Linked DNA regions of Homo sapiens. The protein of the gene in region 1 purifies or fractionates together with the protein of each later gene. This does not show direct contact. Each region holds a gene or a part of one and is shown on either strand. Other genes may lie near its edges.

The links.
Region 2: the proteins of ZC3H11A (region 1) and NCBP3 purify together in Homo sapiens (co-immunoprecipitation; 3 studies listed by BioGRID and IntAct, with this or other methods). This does not show direct contact.
Region 3: the proteins of ZC3H11A (region 1) and E2F3 purify together in Homo sapiens (pull-down; one large-scale study listed by IntAct). This does not show direct contact.
Region 4: the proteins of ZC3H11A (region 1) and FIGNL1 purify together in Homo sapiens (affinity purification with mass spectrometry; one large-scale study listed by BioGRID and IntAct). This does not show direct contact.

The regions. Positions count from the first base shown.
Region 1 is NC_000001.11:203,829,454-203,834,687, forward strand, and holds part of ZC3H11A (zinc finger CCCH domain-containing protein 11A), read left to right. Parts: coding exon 1-201; intron 202-326; coding exon 327-443; intron 444-669; coding exon 670-750; intron 751-2,207; coding exon 2,208-2,318; intron 2,319-4,337; coding exon 4,338-4,400; intron 4,401-5,234. UniProt on the Homo sapiens protein: Through its association with TREX complex components, may participate in the export and post-transcriptional coordination of selected mRNA transcripts, including those required to maintain the metabolic processes in embryonic cells.
Region 2 is NC_000017.11:3,800,941-3,805,969, reverse strand, and holds the end of NCBP3 (nuclear cap-binding protein subunit 3), read left to right. Parts: 3' UTR 1-3,812; downstream 3,813-5,029. Other genes in the region: ITGAE (integrin alpha-E isoform 1 precursor), read left to right, coding at 4,826-4,859. UniProt on the Homo sapiens protein: Associates with NCBP1/CBP80 to form an alternative cap-binding complex (CBC) which plays a key role in mRNA export. NCBP3 serves as adapter protein linking the capped RNAs (m7GpppG-capped RNA) to NCBP1/CBP80.
Region 3 is NC_000006.12:20,407,362-20,412,595, forward strand, and holds part of E2F3 (transcription factor E2F3), read left to right. Parts: intron 1-5,234.
Region 4 is NC_000007.14:50,442,916-50,448,367, forward strand, and holds the end of FIGNL1 (fidgetin-like protein 1), read right to left. Parts: exon of another isoform or gene 5,375-5,452; 5' UTR 5,266-5,374; intron 5,141-5,265; exon of another isoform or gene 5,053-5,140; intron 4,383-5,052; 5' UTR 4,373-4,382; coding exon 2,348-4,372; 3' UTR 1,218-2,347; downstream 1-1,217. UniProt on the Homo sapiens protein: Involved in DNA double-strand break (DBS) repair via homologous recombination (HR). Recruited at DSB sites independently of BRCA2, RAD51 and RAD51 paralogs in a H2AX-dependent manner. May regulate osteoblast proliferation and differentiation.

The DNA.
Region 1 (5,234 bases):
TGTTGCCCACTGTGCCTGAGTCACCAGAAGAGGAAGTGAAGGCTAGCCAACTTTCAGTTCAGCAGAACAAATTGTCTGTCCAGTCCAATCCTTCCCCTCAGCTGCGGAGCGTTATGAAAGTAGAAAGTTCCGAAAATGTTCCTAGCCCCACGCATCCACCAGTTGTAATTAATGCTGCAGATGATGATGAAGATGATGATGGTAAGTTCTGTCTGGCTCCTTCTTTAAGGCAAATAAATAGGGTCTCATAGTGAATTGGGCAGAATCAGGATTAAAGCTATAGGCGTATTTTTAATTGTGAATTTGCCTTAAATGTTGATATATAGATCAGTTTTCTGAGGAAGGTGATGAAACCAAAACACCTACCCTGCAACCAACTCCTGAAGTTCACAATGGATTACGAGTGACTTCTGTCCGGAAACCTGCAGTCAATATAAAGCAAGGTAAGAAGAGGCTAGATTGGTGCCTCTTATAGCACTGTTGAAACTACCTTTGAAATTTAGTTCACAATCATTGACCTCCCTCTTCTTTTTCCCATGCTACACGCATACTTACCTATACTTAGTTTCTGTTGATCATTTATTCAAAAATAAATGCCTGCTATGTACAGATAAAATACAAAGATGAAAAGGCTCCCGTTCCTCATAAAATTTCTATTTGAATTTTCAGGTGAATGTTTGAATTTTGGAATAAAAACTCTTGAGGAAATTAAGTCAAAGAAAATGAAGGAAAAATCTAAGAAGCAAGGTGGTAAGTCATCACGTTTTGGCATGGATAGTTGTATGTTGCTAGGGAAGAATACTAAGGACGCTTCTAGAAGCAACAGCCAAAATGAGCAAATAGATTTTCATTTCCATGGCCTGTTTGAAGTAAAACACAGACTTATTTAAATTGTGGTTGCTTTTAATTCACTGCAGCTGTGTTTCAGTCCCTAACTTTTCAGAGCTGGGTACAATAAAGAATCTGAAAGAACTTGTATATCTTGAAAAATATAGCTCTGAAGAACATCATATAAGAACTATATTAATTCTGTAAGTTCTTATAGTGGTTAAAAAGAAATTATATTAAGAGAGGAAAGGCTGGGCGTGGTGGCTCACGCCTGTAATCCCAGCACTTTGGGAGGCCGAGGAGGGCGAATCATGAGGTTGGGAGATCCAGACCATCCTGGCCAACATGGTGAAACCCCGTCTCTACTAAAACAAAAAATTAGCCAGGCGGGGTGGCATGCACCTGTAGTCCCAGCTACTCGGGAGGCTGAGGCATGAGAATTGCTTGAACCCAGGAGGCAGAGGTTGCAGTGAGCTGAGATCGCACCATTGTATTCCAGCCTGGCGACAGATCAAGACTCTGTCTCAAAAAAGAAAAAAAAGGAAAAACGTCATTTTCTAGTAGAAGAGTTCTTCCTCAAGAGCTGCTAGGATTTTCTTCTGGAGCTTACGTCAGCCTGATTGCTCTGTATTTCCAACCCCCAATTTTTTTTTTTTTTTTTTTTTTTTTTTTTTTTTTTTTTGAGACAGAGTTTTGCTTTTGTTGCCAGGCTGGAGTGCAATGGCGCAATCTTTGCTCACCACAACCTCCACCTCCCAGTTCAAGCTATTCTGCTGCCTCAGCCTCCTGAGTAGCTGGGATTACAGGCATGCGCCACCACGCCTGGGTAATTTTGTATTTTTGGTAAAGACAGGGTTTCTCCATGTTGGTTGGGCTGGTCTCGAACTCCCAACCTCAGGTAATCCACTGCGCCCAGCCCCCAGCCTTAAAATTTATAGTGTGAAGTGTAGTATATATAGAGAGAAATGGTTCTAAAAACCTTCTTTTAAGGCTTGCTTTATAGCAACCTTGGAGTTGTGTTTTCAGATGATTAAATAGAATAGGTTGGATTGATACACCTGATGGCTAGTGTACCTCTGAGGTTAATTTTAGAATAATACTAGCTTTATTGGTAAATATTAGCCTTATTGGTAAATAAAAGTAGTTTGGGTGCCTAAGTCACTCAAAATAATTTTATATTTTGTTTTCACATCATGCCCAAGGCTCCCCTCACCACTACTCCATTTGACTGTAGGCAAACAGATACAGAAAGGCTGATTGGCTTATAGTCATAATATCAGTCTGTATTGGACTTAACTGGTTACAAAAACAAATTTTTTGACTTGGGATAGCATTATTTTCCATAAATTATTTGCTGTTCTTTGACTTGCCTTATTCAGAGGGTTCTTCAGGAGTTTCCAGTCTTTTACTCCACCCTGAGCCCGTTCCAGGTCCTGAAAAAGAAAATGTCAGGACTGTGGTGAGGACAGTAACTCTCTCCACCAAACAAGGTAAGGTATAGATAGGTCTTAGAGTTGTCAAGCCTCTACTTTTATATAATTGGGAATGCAAAATCCTTGGGTATCTTTTACCTTTGATGAATTTTCAGGAATTTGTTAGTATGCTGATGAGATAATCTAAAGATGAAAAGTTGGTACATTCAACTCTAATATTTAAAAGGTTGAAATTCTTTGTCAAGCAGCCCTCACATATATTTTTCCATTTACTGTTTATATCCACTCAATACATTTATTGGCTTCCCATGTGACTAAAGAATAATAGGTATATATAATAAAGTTTTTTATTTATTTCTTTGAGACAGAGTTGCACTCCTGTTGCCTAGGCTGGAGTGCAATGGCATGATCTCAGCTCACCGCAGCCTCCGTCTTCTGGGTTCAAGCAATTTTCGTGTCTCGGCCTCCCAAGTAGTTGGGATTATAGGCATGTGCCACCAAGCCCGGCTGATTTTTTTGTATTTTTAGTAGAGACGGGGTTTCTCCATGTTGGTCTGGCTGGTCTCAAACTCCCGACCTCAGGTGATCCGCCCGCCTTGGCCTCCCGAAGTGCTGGGATTACAGGTGTGAGCCACCGTTCTTGGCCATTAATTTTTTTTTTTTTTAGATGGAGTCTTGCTCTGTCGCCCAGGCTAAAGTGCAATGGTGCGATCTCCACTCACTGCAACCTCCGCCTCCCAGGTTCAAGTGATTCTCCTGCTTCAGCCTCCCCAGTAGCTGGGATTATAGGCACCCGCCACCACGCCTGGCTAATTTTTGTATTTTTGGTAGAAACGGGGTTTCACCATGTTGGCCACACTGGTCTTGAACTGCTGGCCTCAAATCATCTGCCTGCCTCAGCCTCCCAAATTGCTGGGATTATAGGTGTTAGCCACCACACCCGGCCTGTAACGAAGTATTTTCACTTAATAATTTTAAGCCTAATAAGGAATTATAGATATAGATATATTTAAATGTTTGTGCAATTCAAACAACAAAGAATTAGAAGAAAGAGAGCTCACTTCTTCCTGAGGTGATCAGAGATAGTTATATTGGACAGTTAACATCGGAGTAGAGTACAGTTTCATTCAACATATCAAAGTGCATAAGCAAAAGGATAGTTTCAGCTTTATAACCAATTGGTTAAGAATACAATCTGTCTTATACTCGACTGCTATTAATAATTAGTACTATTCTAGGCTGTGCGCAGTGGCTTACATGTATAATCCCAGCACTTTGGGAGGCTGAGGCGGGCGGATCGCTTGAGGCCAGGAGTTCAAGACCAGCCTGGCCAACATGGTGAAACCCTGTCTCTACTAAAAATACAAAAATTAGGCTGGGTGTGGTGGCTCACGCCTGTAATCCCGGCACTTTGGGAGGCCGAGGCGGGCAGATCACAAGGTCAGAAATTCGAGACCAGCCCGACCAACGCGGTGAAACCTTGTCTCTACTAAAAATACAAAATTTAGCTGGGCATGGTGGTGCACGCCTGTAATCCCAGCTACTCAGGCTGAGGCAGGAGAATCGCTTGAACCCGGGAGGTGGAGGTTGCAGTGAGCCGAGATCGGGCCACTGCACTCTAGCCTGGGCGACAGAGTGAGACTCTGTCTCAAAAAAAAAAAAAAAAAAAACACCAGGTGTGGTAGTGTGCGCAGTAGTCCCAGCTACTTGGGAGGCTGAGACAGGAGAATTGCTTGAACCCAGGAGGTGGAAGTTGCAATGAGCCAAGATGGCACCACTGCACTCCAGCCTGAGTGACAGAGCAAGAGTCTATTATTATTATCAAAATAATAATAATAATTAGTACTATGCTATTGCTTCTGTTTAGGCTGTATGTTTGGCTGTTTATTATTAATAGGTTTGGGTTTTTTTTTTTTTTTTTTGATATAATGGCCTTCCTTAAGACTGAGACCTGATTTTCAAGAGACTTTCTGGGTGGATTTACACTAATATCAGAACATACTTTGTACCCATTAGTAGTTACTGAATACAGAAAAATTGACTAAGGATAGAGAAATTCTGCTTTTGCCATTTCAGGAGAAGAACCCTTGGTTAGATTGAGTCTTACTGAGAGACTGGGGAAACGAAAATTTTCAGCAGGTAAGATAAGTTTTGTGTATATCTTTTCTTTTCTACTTGTTTGTGCATTAACATGATAGCTTCTCCAAACTCTTTTTATACAGATCTTTGTTATTGGTGCCCCTGTATTGGCTGAAAGCACTTATAAATTCCTCATGTTTTCATGAGTGCATTATACCTTTTATTGAAGATACAGAGATTTAAAGTGTTACAATTGAACTAGATTATGACCATGACCAGCGTTTTGGAAGGAACTAGATTTTAAAAATGGTAAAGAACACCTCTATTTCTCTGAACAAATTTAAATGTGAGTTTTTAGAGGCGAGAAAAATGATTGGTTAATATAATGTGTGTCTCTTAGAATACAGGAATCCCTAAGAAGAAAGAAGAAAGTATGTATATATAAAATTTGAGTCCTTGAGTCTATTGGTGCTTGCTTATTTATTTATTTATTTAGAGACAAGAGTCTTGTTTTGTTACCCAGGCTGGAGTGCAGTGGTGCAATCTCAGCTCACTGCAACCTCCACCTCCTGGACTCAAGTGATCCTCCTGCCCCAGCCTCTCAAGTAACTGGGACCATAGGCCTACACCACCATACCTGGCTAATTTTTGTATTTTTTATAGTGATAGGGTTTCACCATGTTGCCCAGGCTGGTCTCCAACTCCTGGGCTCAAGTGATCTGTCGGCCTTGGCCTCCCAAAGTACTGCAATTACAGGCATGAGATACCATGCTTGGCTGCTATTTTATTTTTGGGGGAGTACTTTACCATATTAGTAAATTGTTGTATAACTACCCTAACGTGTCTGACTCCAAAAAATTATTATTATCATTTGAAACGAGAGTCTTGCTCTGT
Region 2 (5,029 bases), on another chromosome or scaffold:
AGAATGCCTGTTGGGGAAAGTCAAATAGGATGGTGGCTGGGGCCGGGGCTCTGGGGACTCCTTCTGCCCCACATACTCAATTGGAAAGACTGAGCAAGTCCCCTCACCTCCCTGGGCCTCAGCTTCCCTGTCTGTCAAATGGAGGGCTCAACTGGGGTGAGCTCCAGTTTCCTTCTAGTGCTAACGCGTGTTCAAGGATCCTTGCTCTCCTTTCCGGGGAGCATCAGGGGTGTGGGCTAGATAGCAGGAAAGAAGTAGGGGTTTGTAAACAAGAGATCCAAGCCCCTGGACCCTTGGTCCCAGCACCCAGTGCAGCCCTCGCCCTCCCAGCCCCTTCCTTAGAAAGGACAAGAAAATCCACTCCTTGTTCTCTCCCTGTCCCATCACCCCCGCAGTCCCCCACAGATCTGAGGCCGGAGGATGCCAACATGGTGAGCACCCTCTTGCTGTCTTATTCACGTAGGCTTTTCTTGGTGCCTGCACATGGCTCTTGTAAGGCCACCAATCTTGCTGGATTATGACCTCATCTAACCTTAATTACTTCCTAAAAGCCATATGTCCAAGAAGAGCCACATTGGGGGTTAGGGCTTCAACATATGAATTTGGAGGACATTTACAGTTCAGTCCACAGCACCTGGTCATGTGGAGATCCCAGTCTGCATTTGTGGGATGAAATCTCTGCTTTTTTAAAGTTTACACACCACCTAGCTGGGCACGTGGCTCACACCTGTAGTCTCAGCACTTTGGGAGGCCGAGGCGGGGATCACCTGATGTCAGGAGTTCGAGACCAGCCTGGCCAACATGGTGAAACCCCGTCTCTACTAAAAATACAAAAATTAGCCGGGTGTGGTGGCGGGCACCTGTAGTCCCAGCTACTCGGGAGGCTGAGGCAGGAGAATCGCTTGAACCCAGGAGGCAGAGGTTGCAGTAAGCTGAGATTGTGCCACTGCACTCCAGTCTGGATGAAAGAGCAAGACTCCATCTCAAAAACAAAAATAAAAAAAGTCTACACACCAAAAGAGCTGAAGGCAGGAGAGTTTGTGGTGGTTCAGAGTCCTGATTCTGGAGGAAACAGGCCTGTTTGGAGTCCCAGCTCTGCTCCTTACTAGCTATGTGGCCTCTCAGAGGCAGCATCCTTATCTGAGAAATCGGGTTGACCTTGTAGGTGGCTGAGAGGCTCAGATGAGGGCTCGCATGTGAGGCCTTGGCACTGAGCAGGGCACTCCTACCGAGTGTTCAAAGGTCGTGAGTACCACTGCTCTGCAGCCCTGGGCTCTGGTCTCAGCAATGCCGTCACTCTTTCTGGCTTCCTAAGAGTCAGAAGGCAAGTGGGAGAATAGAACCATTTCCTGTGTCTGAAGGCTGTGCCTCAGTGCTTTTGACTCACTCTGAAGACAGCAGGCAGCCCTTTCTGTTTTTTTTGGAGATGAAGTCTTGCTCTTGTCGCCCAGGCTGGAGTGCAATGGCGCAGTCTCGGCTCACTGCACCCTCCGCCTCCCAGGTTCAAGCAATTCTCCCACCATAGCCTCCCGAAGCTGGGGCTACAGGCACACGCTGCCACGCCTGGCTAATTTTTTGTGTTTTTAGTAAAGACAGGGTTTCACCATGTTGCCCAGGCTGGTCTCAAACTCCTGAACTCAGGCGATCCGCCTACCTCGGCTTCCCAAAGTGCTGGGATTACAGGTGTCAGCTACCACGCCCGACCCACAGGCAGCCCTTTCACCTCACGCCGAGCACGTCTCCTCCATCCATGAACATTTTGCAACTTTTTTTTAAAGAGACAGGTTCATACTATGTTGTCTAGATTGGACTCAAACTCCTGGGCTCAAGCTTTCCCAAGTAGCTTGAACCTCTTAAGTAACTGTGACTACAAGTGCACCTGGCCACTTTTTCTGAGACGGAGTCTCGCTCTGTCACCCAAGTGGAGTGCAGTGGCATGATCTCCGCCCACTGCGAGCTCCGCCTCCTGGGTTCACGCCATTCTCCTGCCTCACCCTCCTGAGTAGCTGGGACTACAGGCACCCGCCACCACGCCTGGCTAATTTTTTTTGTATTTTTAGTAGAGACCGGGTTTCACCGTGTTAGCCAGGATGGTCTCGATCTCCTGACTTTGTGATCCGCCCGCCTCGGCCTCCCAAAGTGCTGGGATTACAGGCGTGAGCCACCGCGCCTGGCCCACCTGCCCATTTTTTAAAAACTTTATTCTTCCTGGTATCAAGGGGAGAAAGAAAAAAATTTTTTAAAATATTTAAAACTTTATTTTGAAATAATTTCAAAATCACAGCAGTTTGAAGGGTACAACAAAGAACATTTTGCCACATTTTCTCTTTCATTCGTTCCCTCCTCTTCTCCCTCACCCCTGTTTCTTCCTATCCTCTCTGAACCATGAACCATTTGAGGATTATTTGTATACATCATGCTCGTTTATCCGTAAGATGTTTTAGTGAACATTTCCCAAGAACAGGGACAGCCTCTCACATGCCCATGGTACAGTTCTCAAATTCAGGAAATGTGTAATATTCTCTGATCAGCCCAGGAGTTGCTAATTTGTAGTTCCTGTTTCAAATTTGCCAACTGTCCCAATAATGATTTTGAAAGCCGTTGTTTTTCTGGTCCAGGATCCAATCCAGGATCAAGCGCTGCCTTTAGTTGTCCTCTCTGCAGCCTCCTTTCGTTTGGAGCAGGTCCTCAGCCTTTCTGTCTTTCATGACATTGATGTTTGTGAAGAGTACAGTCCAGTTTCTGTTGTAGAACGTCCTTGAAGTTGGTCCCGGAATATTTGTTTAAAGTGAGTTGGGAAACCACATTCACATGTCTTTTGGTTATGTGTGTATTTGTCAAACAGCCAGCCTTGTGCTGCGTGCTGTGATGGGGAGCATTACTCAACAGAGCCTGGCCCTGACCTTGGGGATGTAGTTTGGGTTTGTGGGGAAAGCAGCTACCGCCAGGTGGGCTTTACGGACCCCTGTGTGTCTCATGACTAGAGGCACTGACGCTTGGATAAATACATACTGGATGGATGCAGGATGAGTCCGCATTCTAGAAGTGTGCAGAGGTACAGAAGTGGCCCTGCTCCCTGTCCAGCACCCAGTCATCAGCTTTCCCTGGCTTCCCGAGGCACCCTGACGTTCACACTCCAAACACAAAGTCTTCTCTCAGGAATCTCGAGTGAGCTGCAGTCTGGGTTCTAGCCCTGCCCTAGCAGGGATCTGCTCAGTGACTGGGCTGCTCTCTTCCTGCTTTAGGCCAATGCGGGGGAGAGGAGACCACTGTGACTCTCCCCAGTGCCCTTGGAGCGCAGAATGAAGTGAGGGGAGGAGGAGGGTCACGAGCCCTGGAGCGCTGGGAAGACAGGCTGTAGGCCGCAGGCCCCGATCCTGCCTGGGACGAGGTTCAACAGAAGTAGGATGGTTTCATCATGACCTGGCAGGAAAACCACCAGACCTGGAATTTTGCTTTTACAACTGTTTAACTTCTGTTTCATACAGGATGGAAACCGGTGAATTGTAATCTCACATAACCGAGCAAGATCTAGTAGTCATAAGCACTTTGTCAGAGCAAAGCAGACAAGGCAAAGTGTTGGAAATGTCATCGGATCTTCACAGAACCTTAGCCAAGCAGCCTTTCAATGCGAGAAACAAAATAACATGGATTTTTATCTAGTAATGAAGTCAACACCATTGTCCACCCTGGGTTAACACATTCACATCTCAAAGCGAATGGGGCTGCAGACACTCGTGTTAGAGAGCCTTGGAATGTCCTGCCTTTTTACGTTTAATTAAAATTAAATAAAATATACAAAATTCAGTTCATCAGTTGTTCTAGTGGCATTTTAAGGGTTTAGTACCATATGTGGCTCATGAGTACCATCCTGGACAGCGTCGACCTAGAGCAGTTCCATCCCCGCGCAGAGTTCTGTTTGACGGCGCCACTCTGCACTTCCAGCAGCCTGGGGAGCAGGGGTGCAGGAGAGTTCCTTCTGTGTCACAGACTTGGTCACACAGTACAGATCTCAGATCAGCACTTAAACACGACTGCCAGCTGTCAACGGCGTGTTCTGTGGAATGCTGGGATGCATCACAGGTATGCTGGAAGATGTATAGAATTTTACTTCTGTTATTCTGGTAACTCAGAGTCCTGTTCAGTCAGTTTCCACGTCAGGTTGCTGTCCTGGTTTTAAAGAGAATGAACGCAGCCGAAGTTGAATCGAGGCAGTGATTTCACTCAGTGCGTTGGGTCTTTCCACTCACCTGGCCCTCCAGAACCCCAGGGCCTTGAGTGCATGGGCTGGTACAAGAGCCCAGTTTTTGGCTGGGGAGGCACTTCCTATGGGAGGGGGACGCCTGTCTCAGTGCTGAGGCAACCACCACCGAGGACCCTGGGCTGGAAGCTGGGCTGAGATGTCTGGTGGTAGGTTCTGAGGCAGGACAGGGGACCGACTCAAATGGATGATACGAACGGCAGGCTGGATTCACGTTGCTCCTGCACCTCCAGCATCTGCTGAGGACACCTAGAACTGTGGCCCTGGCCAAACCTCAGCTCCCTATTCCATGAAAGTGTGGGTCAAAGTGTGGGTGGTAGAGTGGGGCTGACAGTGGCCCCTAAGCTCCTAGGGTCCAGCCCACAACTGAGGAAGCCACACGGCTGGTTGTGTACGAGCCGGAGTGTCTCTGTTTGGTTGAAAGTGCCGGTCTGTGGGTCCTTGCTGGTGTGTGTGCTTCTGTCCCCGCCTCCTGGCCTCCTGGCTGAGGGGAAGCTGAGTGGGCCACGGCCCATGTGTCGCACTCGCCTCGGCTCCCACACAGCCGCCTCTGCTCCAGCAAGGATGTGGCTCTTCCACACTCTGCTCTGCATAGCCAGTAAGTCCTCTCACCCGCTGCTTCGAGGGGCTGCTGTGCCCTCAGCTCCAGCCAGGTGTCTGCAGACTACAGCCTTGACTGTCTGTCTCTGATGGGGCTCAGTTAGAGCCAGAGGTTAGAGAGTGGCAGCTCCTCCAGGAAAGGAGTCTTGCTCGGTGGGTCAGGGCCCC
Region 3 (5,234 bases), on another chromosome or scaffold:
ACTGTGGGCTGAAGAACTCCACCTTGTGAACAGGAAAGGATTTTTTGTTTTTCTATAAATCGCCACCTTGTGTATTACTTGGAAGAATGGATTCTGAGATTAATGTTATACTGTGTAAAGCTAACTTGAAAACAGAAAATAATACTCTAAGCCTAGACGTGCATAAATAACATTACCTGGAGATTGACAGACGGGGTGAAAGCTTTTATTGTGGTTTCTCAGAAATATATAAAGCAGTAGTTTTCCTTTAACTCTTCTGTCTTTAATGCCATCTGCAAAGATATATCATCCATACCTTTAACCTCTTTCCTAGGGATTTGGACCCATTTGGCAAATAGCTTCAAGTACTCATAGTTAATTTTCTGGCTGGTTTTCCTAAGTTAACCTGATTTTACAAATATTCCATTTGTAGGACCAGTTTACATCTACTTTCCCAAGCTAGCCAACTTCAATTCCCTTTTAGTCATCTACTTCCTACTAACAGCTGTAACTAGGATGAGTCAAAATCAATTGCCTATGCTCACCAGATCCCTGATAAATTCCCATGAAGCCACCTGAAAGGTGGTAAAAGCAAGGTAAAACGTGGTGAAAGCAAGGTAAAGAAGGTAGATTTCACAATTTTGTTTTTTAAAAAGGGGAATCTTCCCTGAATTCTTTGAGGTACTAAGTACGTGGTTTAATGCATATTTTCATTCTTGTTAGCAGTTTAAAAATAATGTTTCAGAGACTGTATTCACGATTGCTAAAAAGCATTTTTTCTACTAATCATTGTTCATGGGACTTAACAATGGAAGATAACTGGGAAAGCAGTAAATATAGGAAACCACTAATAGTGTCTCCTTCTTCCTACCCTGACCCTCTCTTTGGCTTCAGAAAGTGACGAGGAAAATGTATCTTTCACAAAGAAAAGTTATACCACAGAAGGTACTAAAAAGCAACAACTGCCTTTGGGGACAGGAAACTTACAGAGTGGGGATTATTATAGAGGGATAACATACCGAGTTTCTATTTCAATAAGAGGGAAATTGGTTTATATTCTGTTCACACTTGTTTCAAACCCTCTCCTCTAAAAGCAATGTGTTTTTGGAATTCAAGGAATGTACGTTCTTTCCCCAACCTTAACTGGGGGTCAGTCTTATGGCCACCATATTTGTCTACAATATAACTTTTAAAAAATATAATTTTTGCCCTCAAATACTCTCCTATCCAATGCAATGTAACTTTGAAGGAGAAGTGATGAAGGCCACTGGTTGCCAGATTGTATCACACAGCCAGATGCACTTTGCTTTGATGAAGAATCTAAGTGATGCAGGCCCCCACTTAGCTTTGTAAACTAAGGCAGGGGTTTATGTCAGCTCGAGGTAGAAAGCAGTGAGAATTGGCAGCTGATGGAATAGAAAGGGGACAAAAAGAATAAAAAATAATTGACTTTAGTCTGCTTTCCATTACCGTAGCCCAACTCTCTGGGGCCATTTGTGTGGTCTAGACAACATTCTTAGAACTTGACAGTCCCTGAGAACGATATTCTAGGTTGGCATGGGCAATAGTTGGCATTTACACTGGTCTTGGAATCATAACATTTGAGAAGTGTAAGGCACAAGAGTCCTCATCTGCCCAATCCCCTTCATGTTGCAGGTGAGGAAATTCAGGCCCAGTGCTGTTAAATTACTTGCCCAAGGTCACAGGTCTTTGCTAGTGGCAAAGCCAAAACCGAAACGGGAGACTCTTGAATTCTTAGAAGCCTCATTCACCAAGAGAAGGTTAACTGTGTCTCATGAACCCTATATGGGAAAATTGGGGTGTGTAGGACACATTTTAGATTTCCTTCAGGAGTGGTTACCTTTTTTAAAAATGCGCACATAAAGAAGTGTCCTTTAAACAGTTGGCTGTGGGGGTAATGACTTATTCCCAAAGATACAAAATAAGCAAGGCTACTTTGGATGTTAAATGAAAGGGAATTATTTAAAAAAGGAAAGAATGACTCTTCAAAACGTGATAGTAATATTTTTAAAGATTTATTTGATATTCGCAAATTTGTCTTCTGTGGTTATATCAATTCTGTTGCTCAAAAAGTGACACATGCTTCATAGAGAATAGAATCTAAAAGGATTTTTGAGACTTTCTTGGGGAGAAGGACACACAGTGCCCCTCTGGTAGTAACGGAGTTTTGTCCTGGGCCACCAACATCCTGAGTGACTGTCATGCTTTCAGAGGTCCCCAGCCCTTGCCCAGTAACATTGAACAAGGTGTTCTTCCTCTGTGGTTAGCTCCAAGATTTCTGGTTTAGCAAAGTGGCTAATCAGTTAACTCTTTAAGAGGAAATTGTCATTCCTTTAGCCAACGCTAATTTCCTTAAAATGCCTTCTTTTCCTTTTTGGAACTGAGAAAGCTTAAAAATAGAATTGCTTCAAGCCCTGAGGCCTGAAAGTGAAACATAATCTAACGTGGCTGTAGTGCACTGACTCGTTAGGGGCAGCGATATATGGCTTATCTGTAATCCACAAACCAGAAAGGTGCCCAGTGTAGATACGGTCTAACAGCCAGTGAGCATTAAGTACCAACTGATGAGAGTAGTAATCAGTGAAGCTGATTTCCTCTGGAAAGTTTTTTGGCGAGTAGAGTTTGTCTTAGAGAGTGGAGGATTTGAATGCCTCTTGACTTTCTGCTGAGGAGAGCTTCTGCCTGCTCTAGTTTTTATGATCCTGAAGGGTGGTAGCTCTGGACTCTGAGAATGATGGGCAGTGAACTCAGGGTCTGTATATTTCGTTCCACTCTGCTCTTCCCCATTTCTGATGCTTTGGGGGCTCCATTTCTGATACATAACCAGAGCAGCATCCCTGAGGCCCACACTATCTCCTGTGTGCCTTTCTGCATCTGGCAGTCCCTTGGAGAGAAGGAGGCTCATGTGTTTATAACCTGCACCCTGTCCTAAAAGGCATAGTGAGGGGCAGCTGAGTATAAGGTCAGGCCACTTAGCCTGGAGCCAGAGTGCCTGTGTTCTTGTTCTGGCTCTGCTCACTAGCCCTGTGACTTTGGGCAAGAAACTTGGCCTCTATGTTTTCATTTCCTCATCTGTAAATTGGGAGGAATGATAGTACCTACCTTATGGGGTTAGGAAGTTGCAATGAGTTCTTATTTGTAAAGTGCTTAGACCAGTGTCTGGCACGTAGGAAGGATTATGTGTTAAGTAGAAACATGGTATAATTGCCCTTCCTTCCACAGGCATCTCATGGGCTGTCCTTTTGTGATCCATTTTCTTGGTTTGTTTTTGTTTTGAGACCAAGTCTTGTTCCGTTGCCCAGGCTGAAATGCAATGGTGCAATCTTGGCTCACCGCAACCTCTGCCTCCTGGGTTCAGCCGATTCTCCTGCCTCAGCCTCCCCCGTAACTGGGATTACAGGTGTGCGCCACCACGCCCAGCTAATTTTATTTGTATTTTTAGTAGGGACGGGGTTTCACCATGTTGGTCAGGCTGGTCTCGAACTCCTGACCTCAGGTGATCTGCCCGCCTCGGCCTCACAACGTGCTGGGATTGTAGGCATGAGCCACTGTTCCTGGCCTGATCTATTTTCTTAACTAGCCCTTAGTGTTCATTTCACCCCATTGCACCTCTCTAAAAATGGTGATGATGGGAAGGAGAAGTAAACCGTGGAATGGCTCTCGCCTAATGCAGTCTTTAGGGTCTAGGGTCTTTGTATTTCTTTATAAGCTGCCCATTGACTTGGGAAAAAGAACTGAAGAATAAGCTTCTTGTAGTAGTGCTATCAGTAGTGATAGTGTCATGAATAAAACCTTTATTTCTGTGATTAAATGTATTAATAAAGTGACACTACTAGCATGAATGACACTATTAACATAATTTCAATCCTGTACAGTAAACCATGGCTTAAGACTGAATGGCAAGAATCAGGGTGTCTGAGCTGCTGGGCCCTGCCAGACTCGGAGCCCCTGCCAGTGTGTGTATATCAAGGCAGGGCGGGGGGTTGTCTTGCTCTCCAGAGGCAATGGAACCTGCCTCTAGGCCTCCCTTTTCCCTTCTCATCTCCTCACCCCTCCTTTTTTATGTTAGATCTATTCCTACCCCTTCCCCTTCGCCTTGCCCTCTGCCTGGCTCTTAGAAGGAAGCAGACTTGCCACCTTCAGTGGCTGCTTCCCGGACTTACCAAATTAATTACCACCTTTTCCTGCCATCAAGGGATGGTGAAATCTTGCCTTTTCGGTCTTGCTTCCCATTCCTCTGCACTCGGCTGCTGCGACAGTGTGGTGCTGCAGGCACCGCAGATTTCCCTCTGGTGTGTTTGCTCGTAGCTTCTCCCTCTCCACCTTACTCCTTTTGTTGCCCTCCTCCCACTGGCCCATTGAGGCCCACATCAAGGGAAGGCGTAGGCACAGCCTCCCCCAGTTTCCCAGGGGCTTGGGCCTCTCCCTTCCCTTGGGTTACTGCTTCTTTCCTGTAACACCTCATGGTCTGCCTCGTAGCCTAATCTTGCATGTTCATGACTTACTCCTCCTCCAAACCTGTAAGCTCCAAGAAATCGGTCTGGCTTGCTTTTTCATCATGTGGTCCCTGCAGTGCCCACTACACTATAGGCTCAGCTACCTGAGAAGAGGCATTTTCATTAGACACCTTCCATGTGCTTGGTACCCCATTAGTCCTATTGGGGATACAAAAGAAGTATGAGGTGTGATCCGCCCACTCTTGAGTTTACAGTCTGTTGAGGAGACAAGCTTTAAACACAAGTTGATCTGCAAGCAAGACTAAACAGGCGGTAGGGAGAAAACAAGACTCATCTAGTCCTCAGTTGTGTGGTGTCGACAGAAAGTGCCAGAGGAACAGGTGAGAGTCACCAGACTCCAGCTGGGCCGTGAGATGGGGAGGCCACGGTTGTCAATCTTGGAGTACATTAGGGCACACATGTGAATCTCCCAGGGCGCTTTTTAAAAATACTGATACCTAGGCCCCACCCAGACCAATCAGAATGTCTAGAGGTGAGATTAAGACATGGATTTTTTTTCTTTTTTTAATGTGCTCAGTTGGAACCACTGGGCTTGGTGGAAAGGGAAGATTGGGGAGGCCCTTTCTGGCGGGGAGACATAAGTCAAAGGCAGGCAGGCAGAAAGATTGGCGTCAGGAGGCAGCATTTGGACTAGAGTCATCAGTATGGGGAGATAACAGGACCGAAGGTTGGATGTGTTGGCAAAACTGATCTAGAATTGGAGTTGCCTTTCTACAA
Region 4 (5,452 bases), on another chromosome or scaffold:
TAACAGAGTAGACCTTAATTCAGGAAAGACCATTTCTTGAGCTAACAAGAGAGACATGGGCTCTGCTTAATCCAAGATGAGCTAAACCAACTAGACTTTCTCTCCTTGTCACAATTTCTAAACTCCATAGAAAGAAGTGGCCCTGTGGCTGGTGATCAAGGGAGCTTAAAGTCAGGGCTGGCAGAAGCTGTAACTGAAAAAAACTGATAATAAATATTAAGACCAAATTTCAGAGCTAAATAAAACATTAACAGCTAGAGGGCAAATGCTGATAAATCTAAATAGCTAGACCCAAGAAGGTGGGAGTGATCTGCAATTAAACACCAAGAAAGAAAAACTAGAGAATTCCTTGACATCAATACCAAAGAAACCAAGTTTATAGTGCTGTTTATATAGAAATAGAAAGGGATAAAGACAGTAATGAATATTGTGGAATGTTTTAGGATGTTAAAAGATATAACTAAGAACTGAAGACAAGAAGTTTAACGTCCAAATTCTAATAAAAAAGGCCAGGCGTGGTGGCTCATGCCTGTAATCCCAACACTTCAGGAGGCTGAGGTGGGTGGATCGTTTGAGGCCAGGAGTTCGAGAGCAGCCTGGGCAACATGGTGAAACCCCATCTCGATTAAAAATACAAAAATTAGCTGGGTGTGGTGGTGCAAACCTGTGGTCTCAGCTACAAGGGAGACTGAGGCACAAGAATCACTGGAACCCAGGAGGCAGAGGTTGCAGTGAGCTGAGATCACACCACTGCACTCCAGCCTAGGCAACACAGCGAGACTGTTTCAAAATAACCAAAACAAAACAAAAAATGAATTCTAATGAAAGACAATCACATATTACAAAGGGAAAAACTAAAAATTGCAACAATCTTTTAACATAAAAACAGAAGGCAAACCAAGAATAAAAATTTAAACTATATACACAAACTGTCTAAATTCAACAACTAAAAGTGTTTCAATTTGTCATTTCAAATTGCACTGTTCACAAGAGAAAACATTAGAACTTAAATATAACCTCCACGAGACCAAGGATATTTGTGTTGTTCATTGCTCTACGTTCACTACCTTCAGTTTTTTGAATAAATGCAAAAAGAATGCCAACAAATACCAAAACTGCCTACTGCCCAATGCTGCCATAGCTCTGATTCAGTGCAGATGGAGTTTTACACAGGAACTACTTTTTCAAGAGGACAATTTAGAATGCAAGCCAAAAGCTTTAAAAAGTGCATATTCTTTAATCCAGGAATTACTCAAGAAATTTATACATTTTTTAAAAAGATCACCAAATGCATCCCACATAGTTCCTTTACAATAAACAAAAGATAAACAACCTAGCGTCCTGTCCTATATGCGCTCTACCAGATGACTCAATTATATTCCATCCATCCATGGAATCCTAGACAATCATAAAAGGACATTTATGTTAACATGGAAAGTGAAGATACGCTTTGAAGAATAGGCTACAAGAGAGAATACATTACACAATCCTACTGCTGTATAAAACAAAACATCTGGAAGAATCTATGCTTAAATATTAATAGTGTGTCCCGCAAAGTGGTAGGATAATAGTGACTTTTATTCTTTTTACTTATCTCTATTTTCTCATGTTTCTGTAATGAACATGTTTCATAAAACAAAATGGGTCTGTTATAAAAATCTGAAAACTTGTTTTTGAAAGAGAGCAGTATTACAGGCTGTAGTGTCAAATAAAATATTAATGTTAAATATCACACGCTCCCGTGAAAATAACCAACATTCTTAATTAACCTTTCAGTTCTGTGAATCTAATACTAGATCACACCTTGCTATTTCTGAAAATGTTAGTCCTGATAAAAATTAAAAACCATAAAAGAGGTAACAAATTGGCTGAAGAAAGTAAAAATTGGCACTTTAGCTTTGAGATCTTAAATCTACTTAAATAACACTAAGCAATACTTTGTCCAAATGTAAACCATTATACTAGCTGACATTAAGAATTATGTGGCCATCAGAAGGCACTTTCTTCAATAAAAGATGAATATTAATCAGACACAACTTTATATGTAATCTTCAACTAAAAAAAATTTGAGCTCACTTTTCATGTTATATAGCTTCAAGATAAAGACTTCTTAGAAACAAAAGTTCATTCTCACTTTGTTCAAATAGGCTTACGTATCAGGTAATCACTGGAAAGCAAAACTTACATTAACATACACTATGTCAATCAGATGTAAAATCTGTGCTATTATTTGAAGTACAGAACTTAGAATATATTCTTAAAAATACAATTAACACATCCCCAACTTTCTATGCTAAAAAATAAAGAAGACTGTACTACAGAGATGCCTTGATTCCAAGTATCCCACTTACTTTCCACAACCAAAAGTTTTGTTCCAGTTTTCATAAAGCTCTAAATCTTTTGGAGAAACACTAGGTCGCACAGTTCTAAAAGCATTTTCAAAATCAATGTAAGCTATGGGTCGAACTTGATCCGGTGTTATGGTAGCAATGTCAGCAGTTTGTAAACTGCGAATAGGACCAAGAGAAGCCTCCCTGCAAAGCTGTGTCATGTCTGCTCCTGAAAACGCATCAGACTGCTGTACAATCTGTTCAATTTCTTCTTCACTGAGGCAACACTGCTCTTTGGACATTAGATTAATTACTATCTGTTTCCTGGCTGAAGCTTCTGGGAGGGGAATATAAAGCCTTTTCACCAATCTTCTCCGGGCAGCCTCATCAATTTCTTGTGGCCGATTTGTTGCTCCCACCACTAGGATACGATCTTCAGAAGATGTTGTTGCTCCATCTAATTGAACTAAAAATTCTGTTTTTATCCTTCTAGAAGATTCATGCTCACCATCTCCCCGTTGAGATAACAAGGAATCAATTTCGTCAATAAATATCACAGCTGGTTGCTGACACCTTGCAACAGCAAACAATGCACGGACCATTTTCTCCCCCTCACCTACCCATTTAGAAGTTAAGGATGAAGCAGAGATGCTAAAGAATGTTGCCCCAGACTGACTAGCAATGCACTTGCCAATTAGAGTTTTACCAGTCCCAGGAGGACCAAAGAGCAAAATTCCTTTAGGGGGTCCCCTTAAACCAGTAAAGATGTCTGGCCTCAACATGGGCCACACAACTATTTCCTTTATGGTGGCTTTAGCAAATTCTACTCCTGCAATATCTTCCCAATTTACTGGAGGTCCATGATCCATAATCTCATTCATAATAAGTTCAATCATCTTTGGCTCCAAGTTCTTCAGACGCTCATCAACTGGATGTGCTGGTTCTGTAGGTCCTGCCCCATAAGGCTTACATTGCATTCCTCCATTCTGCTCTCCCCCATCTTGCTTGGGTATAGGAGGAACAAACTTTCCAAGTATCCCTCGGGATCTACTAGCTCCTAGAGACTTTTTTACACCACCATATGAAGACCCTGATGCACGCTGAGGTTGGTGGTACTTTTTTTGCTGATCTACCCATAATTGTTCTTTTGCAGTTTTAAATGTAGGCAGGCTGCTATCCTCCTTTGGGCCATTATCTTCTGTTTTACTACAAGCCTTATTCAGTATTGGATTGGAAAGTGCATCAATGGTGCCAGAACCATAAAAAGACTTCCTCTGTGGATTTTCACAGGCAGCAGGAAAACAAGACTGGTTAGATAAGAACACATTAAGTCCTATGTTTTCTTTTGCAGAGCTGTGATTTTCCTTTTTGACATTTCCAAACAATGGTGTGACATGGAATTTTGCAGTAGCTGACTCACCTACAGGTGCTGAGAATGTAGGACAAGTCCTAGCAGTGTTAGTCACCATAGGTGGCTGGGCATTCTGAAGGAGTTTCAAACGATTGCTCTCCGGGAAGTCTTGGGTCCGGTCTCGATCATGAGCTGAGTTAGGTAATGAGTCACTCTCTTGAGAACTACCACAAACACTAAATTTAGGAAGATCAAAGACAGTGGCCTCCTTATGGATTACCACTGATGCAAGAGCAGGTTCCAACAGAGAGTCTTTGAATTTTTTGCCAGCTTGCATCATCTTCTGTACACTACTCATTTTGAAAACATTATTTATTGACAATCCAGACTGCCACTTGTCACTATCTGTTTGTTGAGATCCTGCCAAAGTTAAAATGTTTTCTGCATAATTATTCAACCCAGATTCAACATTGTCAGAATCAATAATTGCAGAATATTTCTCTGCATATTTTTTGAACAGTTTGGTAGCACAGACCTGGGAAATCTCAGAGTTTGCCCATGCATACTGAATGCGTAATATCTGTGCACGGTATGCATCTGCCTTCGGTCCGGTACATATGCCAGATGTAATTGCGAAGTAATTCTTCTGCCATTCACTCAGGTGCACAGATCTAGAGCTGGAGGTCTGCATTTTAGAGGTTCTATAACAAACAATAAAAATGAAAATCAGTATGAAGGAAAACAAAGAAAATACTTTAAATGTAATTTTGAAACTTCTGCTAATCTGAAGGAAGGGACACTGGACTTTTTATTTATAATGTAGATTTATAAGGACAGGTTATAAGAGAAATATCTAGTTAACTATAGATTTCAAGTATTCAAGACATATCAATATGAAGTCTTCAAAATTAAGGACTTGATTAAATAATAATTTATATGAGTTAAATTGTTCTAGTTACATAATTTTATCTGTAGGGAAAGCATTCATAAGGTTTAAAATTAATTTTAAATTTTAAAAACAATGGAACTATAGATACATAAAGCAAAACAAAATAAACAAGAGGTTTAAGTCTGATCTATAAAACTAGGTGAATGAGCTTAAGTGAGCTTTTTACTATCACTGATGGTTTATTTTTATTTTATTATTATTTTTTTTTGAGACAGTGTCTCGCTCTGTCACCCAGGCTGCTGGAGGGCAGTGGCGCTCTCAGCTCACTGCAACCTCCACCTCGCGGGTTCAAGTGCTTCTCCTGCCCCAGCTTCCCAAGTAGCTGGGATTACAGGCACCTGCCACCACCCCTGGATAATTTTTATATTTTTAGTAGAGATGGGGTTTCGCCATGTTAGTCAGGCTGGTCTTGAACTCCTGACCTCAGGTAATCCACCCGCCTCAGCCTCCCAAAGTGCTGGGATTACAGGCGTGAGCTACCGCGCCCAGCTGGTTCTTCAGTTTTCTTATCTGCAAAGTGAGAGGAACCATTGGAAGAATCAAATCAAGCAATGACTATGAAAATAATCTGAAAACTATCATTATCCTTATCACACAAATGTACAAACCGAGGCTGAGAGACTTAAAGAACTTACTTGAGATCACACAGCCAGTTATGAATGGTATCAGAAATCGAACACAAGCAGTTTCACTCCAGGTACTGTGCACTTCTGCATGTACACAATGCTCCTTGATGCTGCTATCCTAGGTCACAGATTGAACAGCATGGATCACAAATTTAAACTATGGCATATTTAAATGGTTTTAATAACATTCATGAAT